Regions from separate parts of the Homo sapiens genome. Here region 1 is linked to region 2. Evidence: fine-mapped expression QTL. A gene starts in region 2. The other region holds a variant in brackets. All regions are shown on one strand. Distances are between the middles of the regions.

Region 1 (8,338 bases), 240 kb before region 2:
GAAAACTAGCAGGCCCATTGCCCAGGGCTTTTCCAGGTTTGTCCTACCAAACCAAGGTGGAAAGCAAGCCCCTCCGCTTCGGCATGCTTTTCAACCTGTAGAAGTATCAACTCTATCATTTTTCAATCAACTTTTATTCACAAGCCACCCTGGTGTGCAGTACCCTCCTAAACATCTTGACCCCCTATTAACAGTACATCTAAGTATATAAAAGCAAAATCTCCATACACGCAATATGAGTATCCACTACATGTTCTATACCTAGATTGTAATTTTCTTTAGCTTATTAGTAGAAGGCATAGAGTTTAGAGAAAGAGCATAAGCCCAGACAGTAGGCTATAGGGATTCATTCATTTGTGTGCCATGGGCAAAACATATATGAGACATAGGCATTGTGCCTGAGTCTAAATAAGGTGAATGGGAAACAATGGGATAGGCACTAATAAAATAGTGAAGAAGGGAAGGTTTCATAAACAGGGTAACTGAGCTGAATTCAGAAGGAAGAAAGGGAGGCTGACACAGGAAAAAGTGAATTGAGGAAGAAGGGAAGAGAGATACAGAGGCCCAGTGTTAAGAAAAACACAATGTGTTGGAAAATGGTGCCAAGTATAGGATTGGGGAATGTGTGTGCGTGTCTGTGCATATGTGTGTGTATGCATGTGTATGTGTGCACATGCTGGTGAGTGGCTGTAGGATGAGTGCTGCAGAGGCAGCCTGGGGAAAAATTATAAGGGGAGTTGAGTGCCCTAAGGCAACCAGATCCCAGGCAACCAAGAGCAGGTTTTAAGCAGGGCAATGATCAGATTTGTTCTTATAAAAGGTAACTCTGGCAGCATCATAGAGGCACTAAGCAAAGACTGGGCAATGAATCCATCTAGGAGTTGCTATAATCATCCAAGAAAGCTGTGACCTTGAACTACAGCAGTAGCCAGGAGGATGAATAGTAAGGGGCTAGATGTGAAAGACATTATGGAATAATTTGTGGGTGATGAATTAGAGAGAGGAGTAACAGGTGATACCGAAGTCTCCAGCTTGAAAGATCTGAGACAATAACAGTATTGGAGGGCCAGGAGATTTGGTGACGATTACCCTTCTGTGTGGAACATATCATAGTGGAGATGCCTCCAGGACATCTCTGGTAGAGAGATCCCACAGAGAAGACAATCCTGGACATAAAGATTTGAGAATCTAAGAAAGACTGCAGCTGATGCAGGAATGTGGGCCCCTTCCCTACCCCATGTTATCTTTGGTAAACTAAAAAACACCTACACAGTATTTTAAAGATTTCACAAAGCCCAATTTGAAAACCCCTGACCAATGGAGACTGTACAGAGGATGAAAAAGGAAGAAATTGAAAACAATGACGAGACCGGTATTTTAAGAGATAGGGAAACAAAAAAAGAAAGTAAAGGAGAGAACAAAGGACACAGTAAATGGCAGGGGACAGAGCATGTCATCATGTGGGGTGTCTTTGGAGGACCCCAAAAGAAGCGATTAAGGCAAGGAAGTATTAAGTTCTTTGCCAGTGGTAGCTTGCCAGCCCCAGTAAGTTTGGGGGGATCAGACAGGAAAGACAGAAAATGTCTAGCAATATGTTGGAGTGTGGGCTTAAGCAGGAAAACTGGTTCATTTGAAATTACTGTGCTGGAAGGGGCTAAGGAGTTGCAAATAGAAATCAATATAGCACTCGAGTTTTAAGCAGTTTGTTGTTTTGAACCTTTTGTTTCTCCCATGCTGCCTGCAAAATTCAGTTCTGTGCAACAGCCTTTTATCAAGGAGGCCTGCTGGAAAAGTGAGACTGTGACCTCATCCCAGAATACAGATGAGTGGTCACCAGAAGTCAGCTGGATGTGTGACAAAGTGTCCGGCAAGAAAAAAGGTGGAGTGAGAGGAAACCCGAGGACCACACTGACCTGGAGGCACACCTGACCACCCCTGAAACAAGGGAGACAGAGCAGAGCCAGGGTTTTAGAGGAAAATGCCCTCCAGAGGCTGGCAACATAGAGATCCACAGCTGGAGACGTGTGGTCACGTCTAGGATGGGGTCACTGAGCGAGGATAACTTGACCTCTGGCAGTCCTTCTTCAAATGCCACCTCCTTACAGAGACTCATCGCCCCGCTCGATCCTGGTCCTGATGACCCCACTTACTGTCCAACCTCCCCATCCTTGAACTCTCCAAGCCCTACCCTGCTGCTCTCCCTTTTTTCCCGTGGCCCTTATCACTTCCAACACACTATAATTTACTGACTGACATTGTTTAATATTTATTGTCTGCTCCGCCCACCAGAATGTGAATTCCACACAGCCAGGGATTTTTATCAGTTTTGTTCAATGATATGTTCCAAGTGCCTGGAACAATGCCCAGCCTATAGTAGGAACTCAGTAAATACTTGCTGGAGGAATGTGTTATTAGAAATGTGTTATTGAAAACAACAAGCTTTGGAGCCAATGTGGTCCCAGGCCTCAATATACTCCCAACCGGCTGCCTGCCTTAGATTTGTGCTTTGAGAATCAGAAGCCACAGGAAACGGAAGCAATTTCCTGTGATTGCTCTATTCCCCACAATCTGATAAACCTCAGCATCACAGATGCCTGTAGGGTCCACCAAGGAGGGCCTCCTTTCAGACTATAATTTTAGACTGGGGTTCTGAGTTAGTCATGACATAATTCAGAGTTATCTTAGTTGGCTCCTATTTGTTATAAATGAAAAGAATTTTAAAATTTATTTTTGCCCACCATGACAATGTTGACATAACTGTGGGGTAAGGGTTCTGGCATTTAAATGGTAACCCTAACTTTCAATGTTATGTCCCACTGGCTGTAGAAAAAAATAATCTGATGCTTTATCGTAGGTTTCTCTTGAAATAATTCATTAAAGCATCAGATGAAGGAGGAAAAACAAAGACCAAGTTATCCTTGACAAGATTAAGCTGCACTCTATCTCACTGGAATTTGGGCCCCTAGCTATTGTTCTTGTGGACAGTTTGCACAGAGATTTCTTCCCAATGCAATGCTGTCAACGAATAGAAAACTAAAGGGCATATTTCCTCCTTAATCTGCTTGTGGAAATCTCATTCACGGAATAGAAATCTTGCCCCCTATCATGACTAACATGTTTGAAGAGTCAAAAAAGGGAAGTAAGGTTGGTCCTACAGAATTTTCATTGGAGCAATAAAGAAGGCACTTTACCTAGAAACACAGGTTTAAACTTGGCAATTTAAAATAAATAAATAAGGGTGTGTGTGTGTGCAAAATTCTGTGGTCCTTCCAAAGGGGAACTGGGAAGAAAGCCTGCCTTGTGCTAAGCACCATTCTTCACATGGTGAAATCACTCCTGGGGGAGGGTGACTTTTCTTGAATTTGAGCCATTTCTGCAATTTTGTTTTCTTGCTTTGTCTTTTACCTCCCCACCAAAGTAAGAATTTCATTCCTCAAGAAGTGCTAATTTATTCCTCAAAATATGTTTTTAATTTGGTACTTTTATTCCATAAAACTTATTTTTATAAGCAGATTTTCTTGGGAGTATTTGGCCGGTGTATATTGCATAATCATTCAAGTCTTTAAAATCTTTCATTTGACACTTCAGGCACATG[C/T]CTGTGACATATACGTGGCTTTCATAATGATCTCCACATTGCATGTGAACAGAATATTAATTTAGTGTGGTTATACCAGAGCAACTGGTTAAAAGTTTATGAATTTCAGCACTCTCTGGGGAATAAATAATGAATGCGCTTGCAAAATAAACCAGACTGAAACTAACTGAAACTCAATGTTCGGCCAAATTTTGCCACCTGGATTTTTAAAGTAAAAGTGTCCTGTTAGTTATTTTATCTAAAGTACATGCAAAATGATGTCTGTATATTTCATTTGTCAGGTAACACAACTGCAGTACAAGTATCAGGAGCATAGTTTGTTTAGCAAAAAGTCAAGATGTGTCCCCTGGTCCCAGGCTATAGGTATTAAGGTCCTTGCCACCCATGATGGATGTGAATCCATCCGTCATAGATGTGGGAACATGGCTGCTTGCGTTATGCTCCTTCCTGGTTTATCTTCTCTCATCTGTTTGCAGGAACCTGGTGTGTAGGCTGCACACACTGGGCTTTGGCTCATGCCAACTCTTCTGCCTGGCCTGCTTGTCCGATGTCTTTCTACTTGGCTGCCTCCTCCTCACACCTCATCTCCCACAGGAGGGTTTTCCTGATGTTCAGAGGGGTTCAGAAGCTTACCTAATAGTGCACCATGAGTTTGTGGCATAGATAAGAACAAAATTCAGGGCTAAACTTTCTACCCACTATGTAGATGTAGCTGAGGAAAAAAGTGGCAATTTCAAGGTCTAAAAGTTTGCTCATTTGTGAGAGAGTCAAAGGCCTCGACAGAAGAGAACATTTCCCAAATGCCTTTTAATTAAATGCTACAGAAAATGCACAGAAGAGAAGGGGTGCTGTGTACCCATTAAAATAAATGAGATGAAGAAAAGAAAGAAGAAAGGCAAGAAGGGAGGGAGGGAGAAAACCGAAAGCATCCATGCAGACATGCAGACACAAACACACACAGTGTACTCCTGATACTCTGACTATACTTGATACATATTCCAAGATCCTAGACTCTGGGGCACTGTCAAAACCAGTAACCAACATTACAAGGGTTAAATTAGTTATCCTTGGTTGGCAATGGGTCTGACCTCTGCTAACTGGTGGTCTGGAAGGAGATACCAAATCTAAGTGAAAGTCCCCTTCAGTGTAAATGGTAAATTTGCTCTGTTTTGATCCCAGGGCCTGTGGTTCAACTCTCAGGAGGGATGTGTTAACACTTCATACAGTGGATGGAGAGAAAACTGCTGTTTTTAGAAAATTTATTTTTGGTGGCTAAATGCCTTTAAACTGTATGTTCATACATTTGTATAAACTATAATTCCCTCTTTATTTTGGTCTTGATCCATTCTTATTAAAATGAACTGGCTAATTTTCCTAAATTATTGTACCATTAAAAATTATTTGTTGGAACAATTATTTTTTTTTTCCTCGAGTCCACATTAGAGAAAAGGCCTCTCTCAGAGCCACGGCCAATCCACTTTCCCAGTGGTCTTCACTGAGCATCAGCAGTTCAAACATACCCAACCTGTACCTTTCAAATGCTCAACACAGAGAATTCCCCAAGGGTTAGTCAACCGCTGGCTCATATACAAAGAAAATACTGTATTTTGCTCTGAAGAGCTTTCTGAATCAATTTAAACACAGTGAGACAGACACAATATCCCAGAGAGAGGAAAACCTACCTTATTACATTCCTGACCCAAGAGAAAGGATTTGCCCTTAGGACATAAAAGGAATCTGAGGGGGTATGGGGAAAGAATTATCTAATCCTAAACGTAAAAACAGTTCATAATGCAGCATGACAATGCTTTTAATCGCTGACATAATTGTAATATGTATATATAATATGATACAAGGAAGGTAAATGCAGCTTGCTTTTCAGCCTTAAAGGCTCTCTTCAATATTCTACTTAAGGTCTTCTGGATTTTATGCATGCTTGGGGGAATTTTCAGGGGGAGGTAACGTGATATTATAAGGATTCTTTCTCAGTAAGATCACATCTTGTTCTGATTTGATTTGATGCATCTGTATGTGGCAAGTGTGGTAAAGTGAAACTAAGCTCTGTGAATGCAGTGTTTTACAATTCCTCCTTGATTTCCTGTGCAAGCCCATGTGGCCATAAAACAATGGGCAGAAGAATTGGGATTTTTATTTCTTCATATGGGAAAGCTGCTGGGAGAGACACTCCCGTAATCTCAGCTGTGAGTGGTGTGGGCGTTCACTGTTTTCCTTTCAGGGCTATATAAAATATATTTTTTAATGGGAGTTGAGTTTTTCCCCCAGATGTTTCCATACATGATATAATGTAAGCCTATGGTACCATCTCCCAGGAAGGAAAGGCATCCCTGAGTGATTGGTTGGAAGGCTGATAAAGAAACCTGACATTTTGAGAAGTCCAGCTTTTTTTTTTCTTCTTTAACATTATTTATGGAAAGAATTTTACAACACCCTTAAAAGTCACTATGTGGTGGCTGGACTTTACCAACTTTGCAGGCTGACATTTTTACACTAGGCATGGCTGGGACCTAGGAGTTTTGCAGTGTTCACATTTTACTAAAGTGAACGCTACTGACAATTCTGGCAGATGCCAATGATCATTCCAGAATACTGAGTATCAGATCCACTATTGCTCTTTGCGGTCATATGATTAGATGAGCAAAAGAAAAAAGTGTCCAAGTAATAGAAATTTAAAAATAAAGAGAGAAAGAGCTGGTGTTCTGGCTGGACGTTGTGTGTGTCCTAATTCTCCTGAACATCAAAATCCCTCAAATGATACCTTCTGCTTTGCTTTCTAGCTGGGTTTATTTTGCGTGAGCATGGCTTTGACCCCTTCTGGACTGCTTCCTGAGTAGAGGAACTGTATCACATTCATCCTGGTACCCCACAGGCCTTCACCCTGACTTCCACACGCAGGTGCTCAGGAACTGGTGCTTGGTGCAACATAAATATATAACTTGAACCAATAATCTGTTTCCTCATATTTCATTGTAGCTGCAGTTAAGCCGTTCACCAATCCAGATGCACTGAAAAGATTTTCTCAATTTAGCTCTAATATTGATGTTTTCTTGCTCTACGTCAGAGGAGGGAAGCTTCTGCTCTAGGGCAGAAGACATCTCCTATATGCCGGCTGCACACTTAAAATTTTTTAATTTAAATTTTAATTTATTTTTTGCAAAGGGCAAGAATTAGGAATTCTTTTTGGTTCACATGTTGTCATTAAGCTGGCTCCACCAGGTCATTCTAAGGTAATGCTTGGAAAGAGGCGGTAAAGGATGGAAATGGTCACTAGGGACTTAGAGGAGCCAGGGGCTGACTTCATTTATTTTACAAGTAAACTGAGATGGCTGAAGTAATCAATATATGGCACCTCTTCTAAGGTATTCACACCACAGGCTCAAATTCCAAGCATGTGACAGAGAACACTGTATTTTCTTTATACATATTAAAAAAATAGCTCTTTTACTGCTTCTTATCTGAAGTGTCCAGAAAGCCTGTAAAAACCATTCAAAAGAAGCCCAAAATATGCTGCAAACAGCTGCTTCCCACCATGGCAGGACACGGGATATGTCAAACAAATTGCTAATTATGCATTCATTAATGGGACCTATTCCATGGCCCTCACTTATATAATTTTTCCCTTCTTAAATGCCTCAAAAATAAATTTCACCTCTAACTTTTAACACCTCTCATCAGACTATGAAGTACAAAATCCATTACTCCTAGTAAGAAAGTAAAATAATAAATTAGAACATTTCAATAGAGTGCTTGATTTTATTGGCAGAGACTCTGAATGGTGTTAACATTGGCTCAGTACAAATTACACTCCACAGCCAACTTAATGCACAAGCTATGGATATTTTCACCTCTACATTACTCACCAAATTATTCGTCAACTTTGGACATCAACAATCAAAGCACTTTTTTGTGTTATGCAAATCTATGATGTAAATATAAACTAACACCTGCAATTATTTTGCATCTTTCTCTTCTGCTAAAAATATTAGTTTTCACCCCAACCTACTTCAATGTCCTATTTAATCTTCTGTGTTTTCCCCCACACAGCCTTTCACCCTCTATGGAGTGTGATGGGCACGTGCACTGAGATTTTGTTCAAATGTGTCCAGGGTTTTCCACATTTGGTATCAAGTGACTTGAGAAGTTGGAAGTTTGCTTAGTATGAAAAATGGATTATTCAGATGAATGGAGTTTCCTGTTGAAGAGAGGGTAGCATATCATTTTCCACAGGACATTACGCCATGATAGGAAGTTATCATCAATAAATGCTGGACCTTAGATGGCAAAAACTACTAAGAAAAAAAATGAGACCATCTGGATTAACATGGGGGAAAAATGAAAGTGACCTAGGACACCTGCCTTCATCACTGTATGCACAACAGCAGCACTGAAAACTCACCCCACAGACTGCTGCACCCTCACAGAGCAGCGTAGTCTTGACTTATGCAATGTGGCCTTTGGACACATCTTCTGAATCAGAACTCAATACTGTCCACAAAGACAGAAAAAGGTTCTGATTGATACTATTGCTTTTCATTGGCTCTGGGCTACTGGGGCTTCACTGGCCACAAAATTAGGCAAACATCTTCCCATAAACCACAAGTACGTCAAAGTCATCCAGGGTGGTTATTCTTGCCCTCATCCACTCCTCTTTTACACCTTTCAGACACCACATCTCCAACGCCCTGCATCAGGGGCCCTGAAGCTCTCTGTGGTGAAGGACCATTC
Region 2 (8,338 bases):
GTGCCATATATGAGAGTACAACTATAGATACCACAGATGCAGATGTGGAGCTCAACACAATATTGCCTTTCAGGAGGGGGCTGAAATGTTCCAAAGCCACCTTATTAACTATGTAATGGCTTTTTCATTCAGCTTCTTTAGAAGGCCATAGATTTTCTGAGACATTTTGTCGGGTTGAAATATATACACACAGAACAAAAAACACTTTCACATTTAAAAAAACCAAAAGACACTCACAGAGGTAATGAGTAGTGAAGAAATTTGGCACTCAAATATAGCGCATTTAGAATTACAAGTGGAAAAAGTCTCTCATTTTCAGGGGCCAGGCAAAAGAAAAGTGCCATAAAACAATTGAGACACCATGTAAAGTTTGCGATCAAATGTACTTCCAAACACATTTAACATTCAATTTCTTTCAAACAGCTCTCCTCCCTCTCCCTGGAGTGACTGGCCTTTCAATTTAAAAATAATAATTATGGCAATTTTTAAAAAAGAGAATGAAATATCTAAAGTGGCTCTAAATTAACAAGTACCACTTACTCCAGACAGCATTGCCTTTAGCAGCTCCTAAAAACTTAAGAAAAGGATCTTAAAACAGGAAGCTTAGTGAGCTCATAAAACTGTTGCTGGAGCCAGGAACACATAGCATATTTAATCTGCAAACTGTGAGAGTCTACAGTGATTTCAGCAAGATCTGAGGCATGCCCTCAAGGTTTGCTGGGATCTGGGATTAGGGGGTTGATAAGAACCTCCACTGCCCATGGACATGTTTTTCTTCTGCAGTTAAACACAAATGCATAGAGACGTTTGACTGCTGCTTGGCGTTACTGCTCAAGTTATATAAAAGCTTTGCAGCTCCTTTTGCTGTCAATATATCAAAGTTTAAAAAAAATCATCAAAGTGTGAAATTTCATTTAAAGTCTTCGCCAGTCTACAGCTCTATTTCACAGGCCCATCAAATAAAAGTAAAGATGAAAAATACACTGAAAATACTTGAAAAAGTTTGCAGCAGTACCCCCTGCCCTGTTGTTGTTTATTCTGTCTCCCTTTATTTGCTTTGAAACCAGAAACAGATCAATTTTCATCTAGAAAAATGACAACGTGAAGAGAAGGGCAGTATCTTCTCCTAGGCTTTAATGAAAAGACAACCTGAAGTCATTATTAGAGTGGAACCTTTTGTTTAACAAACGTGTGTGTATGTGTGTGTGTGTCCTATAAAGTCATTTCAGCATTTTAATTGCCTCTCATGATATAAGTTGGCAGAAAATTTACTGAATCTTCCAAAACAAATCAGACCGACCTCAGAATATGAATGCCAGCAAAACTAAAACCTCCTTCAAAGAATTCTTTAGCTGGGGATTTACAACAATTGCATAAAGAAGAAAAGTCTGACTTTTAAGATAATCTACTATAGTCTAAAAGCATTAACATTCCATTGCTAAGGTTTTCTTGAGGATTTCATGACTCATTGATTCACTTTTCCTTCAAGACTGGTTTTTCTTAGTACATTACTGTCTCCATGTAAGTGAGTGCATGCAACAATGATCATTAAATTGTTTCTTTTCATAAGCTCCCAAACTCTATCCTCAAAAAATGGAGGGGGAGAAGAGGTCTCAGTAAGCAGGATACCTTACATAGGAGGAAGGACCTCTAAATGGCTAAGCACAGAGGAAGTCTGAAATGCTTACAGCATGCAGGTAATTAAGGAAACTTCACTGGCCAAGAAACAAAGGAAAGTCCAACTTTTAGGCTTGCACATCGAATTGATAAATTAACAATTCTTTCATTAAATAATTAATGAAATAACTCTACAGAGCCATTTTTCATCAGTATTGAATTTTCTCATTTCTGTCTATGGTCCTTTGCAAATTAGATATACAATAGAAATGTGTTTATATCAAGGTTCAGTCAAGGAACACAAGCATGTTAAAGGCACTGGGAATTGGTAGGCATCTGAGTTGGACCTACCAGCCTACTAACAATAATACAATCTATATCTTTAAAGTGTTTCTGCTTGTGTGAAATTTCACTAGACACCTCTCACATTGGACTCATTCATGCATCTTAAACCAAAGCTTCCCTAGGCTGACTTTAAGAATTGCATACCCTGAAAGGATCTCCCCTTAGGCGGGGAGTTTCTAATTAAATAGCTTTTAGTATAAAATAAACTCTCTACTCTGTATAAGCATGCTATTACAACTAATTTAAATGTTATTTCATGTTTGTTTTAGGTTTGAATATAGTTTAACTGGCCAAAGTGTTTGTGTACCAGGTCGTTAAGACCAATATTTCCTAACATAAACAAATTCTTCAGATACTTCACAGAGTTTACATTGTTAAAACCAGTCCCGGCAGCTTTAATATATCCCCTCAACTGAAATACTGTTCTGCTTTAGAAAAATTAAGAGATTTTGAGGCTATTTCACTATTTTAAAACATAGCATTTTCCTCCTTCAAAAGAATCTTGACACATGTAATTAAGAAACTGTCAGACTACTATTAATTTTTAATCTAAAACCTAAATGAAATAATTACAGGAATCAATCAATAAGGCACCTATTCAAAATTACCGAGCAATTACATAAATACTCAAAATTAATACTTTAGGTCAATTCTTGTAGATTTCGGTCTATAATATGCTAAGACATCAAACAACACAAAAAGTGTAGCATGGGGAGGATGAATGGTTCCTGCCTTAAATAGACTGAAAAGAGCTCATTTCAGACGGCCAGGGTGCAGGCCCCCCACCCGCCATGCCCAATGCGCTCAAGCTGAAACTCTTTTATTTTTAAAAGTTAATTTATTTCCACCAGACACATATTTCAGGGATCTAAAAAAACGGCCTCATCCAAATTCTGTACAAAAATCACATTTAAGAGGGAAAGGCCTAATTACTCGAATTTTCAGCAAAGTGTATATACTGTGCTCTGGAAAGCCTAACTGGAGAGAAGAGGGAGGAGAGGAAAAGGGGAGCAGGAGGTATTTTTTAGAACTAATAATACCAGCCCGGCTAATGGCACTGCCATGTATTTGCACAGCGGCCGGCCCTCCATACCTTTGACTAAAGGGTTCTTTGACTTGGAGACGCAGACAGTCCATCATTTCAAACTGAAGTGGCAGCTGGAAAATGTGGAACAGCTGGCAAAGAGCTGGGAGAAAATGTTTTACATAAATATATGTACATATAAACTGGCAGAGGGCCATGAGCACTGTACCCAAGGCCAGAATCTACCCGGCAGTCTGCACTGGGGAGATGAGAAGTTGGGGCAGGATGACCAGCGGCGGAGGGAGCCTCCTTAATCCTCTTTCCACGCGGGGTCAGGCAGGGAAGCCTGGGGTGCAGCGCCTCTCGGGGGACGGCATCTTACAGAAGGAGGTGCAATGGGGGACAGGAGCACAAAGTTCAGGAAAGGATAAAAGGCCGGGTGCGGGGTGGAGCGTCCGCTTCGGACAATCTGCTTAAAAGTCGCTTCACAAACTCTGCAAGTTTGGGATCAATATTTACACCCTCTCTGCCTTCTCCCGCCCGTTTTCCCGCTGCTACTCAAGAAAGTAACTGTCCCCTGCTGCTCTGTGTAAACGCGGCACCTTAAATGATTATTGCATGGACCACGGTTACTTTGTGTGTCTGTGCGCGCTGCCCCTGGAAAGGAAAAGAAATAAGAGAATCCCAAATCATATACAGATGGTACAACTTTCACTTTTCCTCTATGACGACGAAGGCGCGCCTCTCTCCATCCGCTCACACCACACCCCCGCCCTCCGAAGCATAGCCCGGGCTGGAGAAGCCCCAGCGGCGGCGGCCCCCGCGGCGGAGGTCCCCGCGCGCACCCACCATGCCTCCCGCCTCCTTCCGCCCATCCCGAGCGCCGTGCGCGCCCGAAGCCCGAGCCGTAGAGCGCCACCGCGCAAAGGAAGGAGCCAGGCGCGTGCGGGGCTCGCGGAGTTCTTCTGAACCCTTTGGATGGGGGCGGAGGCGAGGGGCGCCGCCACCACTGCGGCAAACTTCGTCCCCCCTCCGGGAGGTGAAATTCTCCAATCCGTCTCCGGCCGGTCCGCGGGTCGGACTCTTCGGAAAGGACCTTCCAGGAGGAGGGAGCGAATGCAAGCCTTGCTCGGACGCCTCACCGGCGGCTCTCTAAATCTGGGCGCCTTTTGACAGCCATTTTCACTCCATCCCGTCCCCACGCTGGGGACCACCTCTGGCCCCGGAGGCGCGGGCGCGGCCGCAGGAGCGGGCTGCGGGGTCCGCGAAACAAAGAACTTCGAGCGGGACGTACCTGCGGCGGCAGCGGCTGTCAAGTCCCCGAACTTCCCATAGACCCGCGGACGGGGCGCAGGCTGGCGGCTCCCCGCTCCGCGCGGCCGCGGGCGGCTACGGCTACCGCGAGCGGCCGGGCTGGGCGCGGGGTGCGCCCGCCGCGGGCATGGTGCGGCGCGGGCGGCCGCGGGGCGCGCGGGGAAGGCGGGAGAGCGGCGCGGGTGAGTGGGAGCGGCGGGTGTGCGCGAGTGCGAGTGTGCGAGCGCGCCGGTGGCGCTGCCCCTGCCCGCTCCCTCCCGCTCGTGCAGCTCCGGCATCAGTTTCGGGGATCGTGTAATCCGATCCCTTCTGACTCACAAGCCCTGAGTGACAGTTCTGATTTGGTTCAACCGCGGGAGGGAGGGGAAAGAGAAAGAAAGAAACCCCCAGCCGTACGCCTCTCCTGGCATCCAATCGACTTTCTGGAAAAAGGTCCCATCCCGGCCTGGTGCCCCGTGCTGGGTGGAGAAGCCCCCCGCCCCGACCTGGCACCGCCTGCACTACTCACGGGGTGGAAAAGTTGTCCCTCGGCTCCGCGCTCCCCTCCCGCGCGCTCCCTCCTTCCCTTCTCTCCTCCTCTTCCTCCTCCTCCCCGCGCTCCTCCTCCCCCAAGTTTTAACAGATGTTGCCGGACTCTCCTCGCTCCCTCGCACTCTCTCTTCCTCCGCCCCGGCCCCCGCCCAGTCCCTTTTCTTTCAGCCACTCTCGGGCTCGGAGGGGACGCGCTGAGCAGCAGGACGCCTGCCGCCGCAGGGGGCGAAGTTGGGAAAACTTGGAGTGCTGCTCGCCTTACTTTTGCTTTCTCGCTCCTTCCAGGCCGCGCCGGGAGCCCCCGCTTCTCCCGCCCGCCGGGTCCCCAAGCCCGGAGTGGGTCCCAGCTGCGAGGCGGGCGGCGGCGGCTGGGAGGCGGCGCGTCGCGGGCCGGGGTCGGGGGCTGGGGGGGAGCCCGGGCGCCGCGAGCCACGCGCGCGCTCCCTCCCCGCCCTCCGCCGCCGCCGCCGCCGCCGCCGCCGCCTCCTCCTCCTCCTCCTCCTTCTCCTCCTCCTCCTCCTCCTCCGCCCCTCCCCGGTCTTCACACAGACACATTCATGCCTGCTCCTCCTCTTCCCCCTACTTGACCCCGCGCCCTCCCGGCGCGCCGAAGCCCCACCCACCCGGCGAGGGGAAGGGGGCCCGGGCGTGATGTCACCCGCGCCCTCTCTCTTCTCTCTCCACACCGCCAGGACACCCCCCAAATGCGCGCCCTGGCACTCGTGCTGCGTCCTGTCTGCTCCCATCTTCTCCCACCCAGCCTCTCTTTCTCACTCTTGCTCAAGGGCTGGACTCCCCTTTATTCTTTTAAGGCTTCTCTGATTACCACCGCCCCCCATCCTTGGCTCCCCATCTCCTTGTTTTACATTTTCCCAAAGCCATCCCCGAAACTCCCTCTCGCGGGATGATGCCTTTGGAAGTTCAGGGTTTTTCTCTCCACCGGACTCGTCTGCCCTCGGGGCCAAATCCGCGAAGCGAGGAGGAGCTCCCACCACACAGCCTGCTGTCCCTATGGGCCACTTTATAAAAGACACAAAAACAAAGACCCCAGGCTTGGAGCCTGGTCTCTAACGTGCCGCTTTTCCTTGAGCTACAAAGTGTCTCTGTCCCTGCTTCATTTTCAGAGGCCCATGCTAGTAAAAGTTATTTGGCCTCCTTCCTCGACCATCCAGTCCTTGTTCATCTGCGTCATTTTAATATATCCAACCTGGACATGTAACTTAAAAAAGGAGTTCTCGGGGGGAAACACAGGAAGAAAAAGAAAGAAAAGAAAGCCCCTGTGACATTCCAACATCCCCTCTTTCTGGTTAAGCCGGGTCCACCCAGCCAGAAGTGCCCCGGAGCTCCGGGTTGCTTGTGTGGCGTTGCCGCCAAGTGTCTTGACTGAAGGAAGAGTGTGGGTGGATGAATGATGAGCTATTAGAATTTGAAGAGCATTTTGAGATTCAAATGCTTAACTGAAGAATCTTTTAACGAAATTGAGGGTGGTATTCATTGTTTGTTTCTTGGGACTCCTTCCTTGTCACAATGACATGACAAGTGCAGAGACAGACTTAAGGTTTTATGGTGGAAGTGGTGGAGGTAAGGTGGGGCTAAAGGCCCTAGTTAGCCATTTGTTTTAAGATTTCCCTCGACCTCACGGCTCAGGAAAAAACAAAACACCACTGACTCATCGCAGAGAGCACGAGACTCAGAAGCCCTGTGGCAGCCCCATCTCCGCGCTCACTAACTGGCCTCAGGCCTGGGAGGATTCTCTGAGCCTCCATAGGCTCTGAGCCCATCTAGGGGATAGTGTTAGGAGTGCCAGGTCGCGTACCTCCCAGGATGGCTGAGGGTTTCCAATGAGAAATACATGGAAAAGTATAGAGGGCTACAAGTGTGTAAGAATTATGCTTTTACAATTGAAGAGAATTGCAAGCCACTCTTTCCTTTATATACTCCCAGCATCAGTTACAATTGTTTTTAGTATTCATGTACTGCTTCTGCCTCAATCACATGAATACAAATAGTACATCCTGATAGCCTACTCTGTTCACCCAATGGCAAAAAATAAATACAAAGAAAGACAGCCAATAAATCATCAAATAATAGAATAAACTAGATATTTCGACTCTTACTTCAGTCTTATAGCACATTTTGAATCATGAAGATCTTGATTTTTCAGTTCTTAAAAGACAAGAACAAAGCAAAAGCAGCTAATCTTTCCCCCTATGCCCGTCACAATAGCTAAACAAAAAAGAGGAAGAATAATGCTGTGTCTCTTATGTGTCCAACTCTGCTTTAATGGTAAACCCATACATATAAGTAGGCACATTTTGCAGAAACAGTGGAGGGGTAAAAAACCCACTTTGCCTGAGTGTGGGTTAAATAATGTCATAATGCAGTGACTTTCTCTCTGTGTTAACACCAGAACGCTTTCCAAATTAAATCTTACGTAGAATCCCAAAATATAGAAGAGTTATTATGGTTGAAATTGGAGTGAGGTCTCGGAGCCCAATCCCCCTAAGCCTTTCTCTCTTTCCCTTTCCTGCAGTTGCTCCTGAGACATCTGTAAAAACCCAAAGACACCCAGAAAGACAATGCTACAACCTTTGTTTGTAGTGATACACAGCACTAAGAGACTTACAGGATTCTGTGCACTGCCCTTCCTTGATGTCTGAAATTCTATCATAGATTGACTTATTGCCATCTCTCATCAGTTCTCTTTTCAAATGCAGATATCTTAAGAAATTTTAATATAGTAAGTCCTCAGAATAGTTAAGCTTTTAAGACAGACTTTCTTTCTTGTTGTTGCAACAGTGAAGTAGGAGATACTTGAAGATACTTGCATTTGTTTTCTAGGGCCATGGTAACAAAGTACCAAAAACTGGATGGCTTAAAGGACAGACATGTATTGTCCTATAGTTTCTAGAGGCTTGAAGTCCAAAAGTAAGGTGTCTTGCAGGGCCACACTCCCTCTGAAACCTGGAAAAGAAATTTCTCCCTTGCCTCTTACTGGCTTCTGGTGGTGGCTGTCAATCTGGGTGTCCCGTGGCTTGCAGCTTCTCCCTTTCAGTCTCCACCTCTGTCCTCATATGGCATTCTCCCTTTGTCTCTGGCTTCTCTTCTTATAAAAGCACGAGTTATATTCTGTTAGAGACCCACCCTACTCCAGAATGACCTCATCTTAACTAATTACATCTGCAACAAGCCTGTTTCCAAGATCATATTCTGAGGTTCCTAGGGTTAGAACTTCAACATTTTCTTCTGGGGGACATAATTCAACTCCTAACAACACTGCAAAAGATAGTGGGAGAGGAATGAAGGATACGCAAGAGAGAGAACAAAGGATGAACCTGGAAACAAACTTCACGTGCTCCTCTGATTCCTACCATGGGCCGATGTTATACAAATACTTTTCTCCCCTCACTTACCATGGCAGTTCTTCCATCTCCCTGCACAGTAGCACCCAGTTAATTATTGGAAAATTCCAGGAGGATAGTCCATGTGTACTAATAAACTTCAAGT

Alleles and levels. Alleles are on the strand shown, and positions count from the first base shown. SD is a standard deviation of normalised expression in the study named.
With allele T in place of C in region 1, the expression in fibroblasts of the gene that starts at base 4,519 in region 2 is lower (small effect, 0.14 SD a copy in GTEx).

Evidence for each region. PIP is the estimated chance that this variant, and not a neighbour inherited with it, causes the effect. A credible set is the group of variants that fine-mapping cannot tell apart.
Region 1: its variant is the best candidate, but not a certain one, in a credible set for the expression of GLI3 in fibroblasts (GTEx, PIP 0.90).

Annotation. Positions count from the first base shown.
Region 1 is chr7:41,991,278-41,999,615 of GRCh38, forward strand. All of the region lies in intron 10 of GLI3 (GLI family zinc finger 3), which reads right to left. Among named protein-coding and RNA genes, the nearest start is that of GLI3, 240 kb to the right of the region's middle. The variant C/T (reference allele first, on the strand shown) is at 3,596.
Region 2 is chr7:42,232,691-42,241,028 of GRCh38, forward strand. It overlaps GLI3 (GLI family zinc finger 3), which reads right to left and starts at 4,519. Exons shown (of 15, transcript NM_000168.6): 1 at 4,281-4,519. RefSeq lists an enhancer at 4,263-5,244.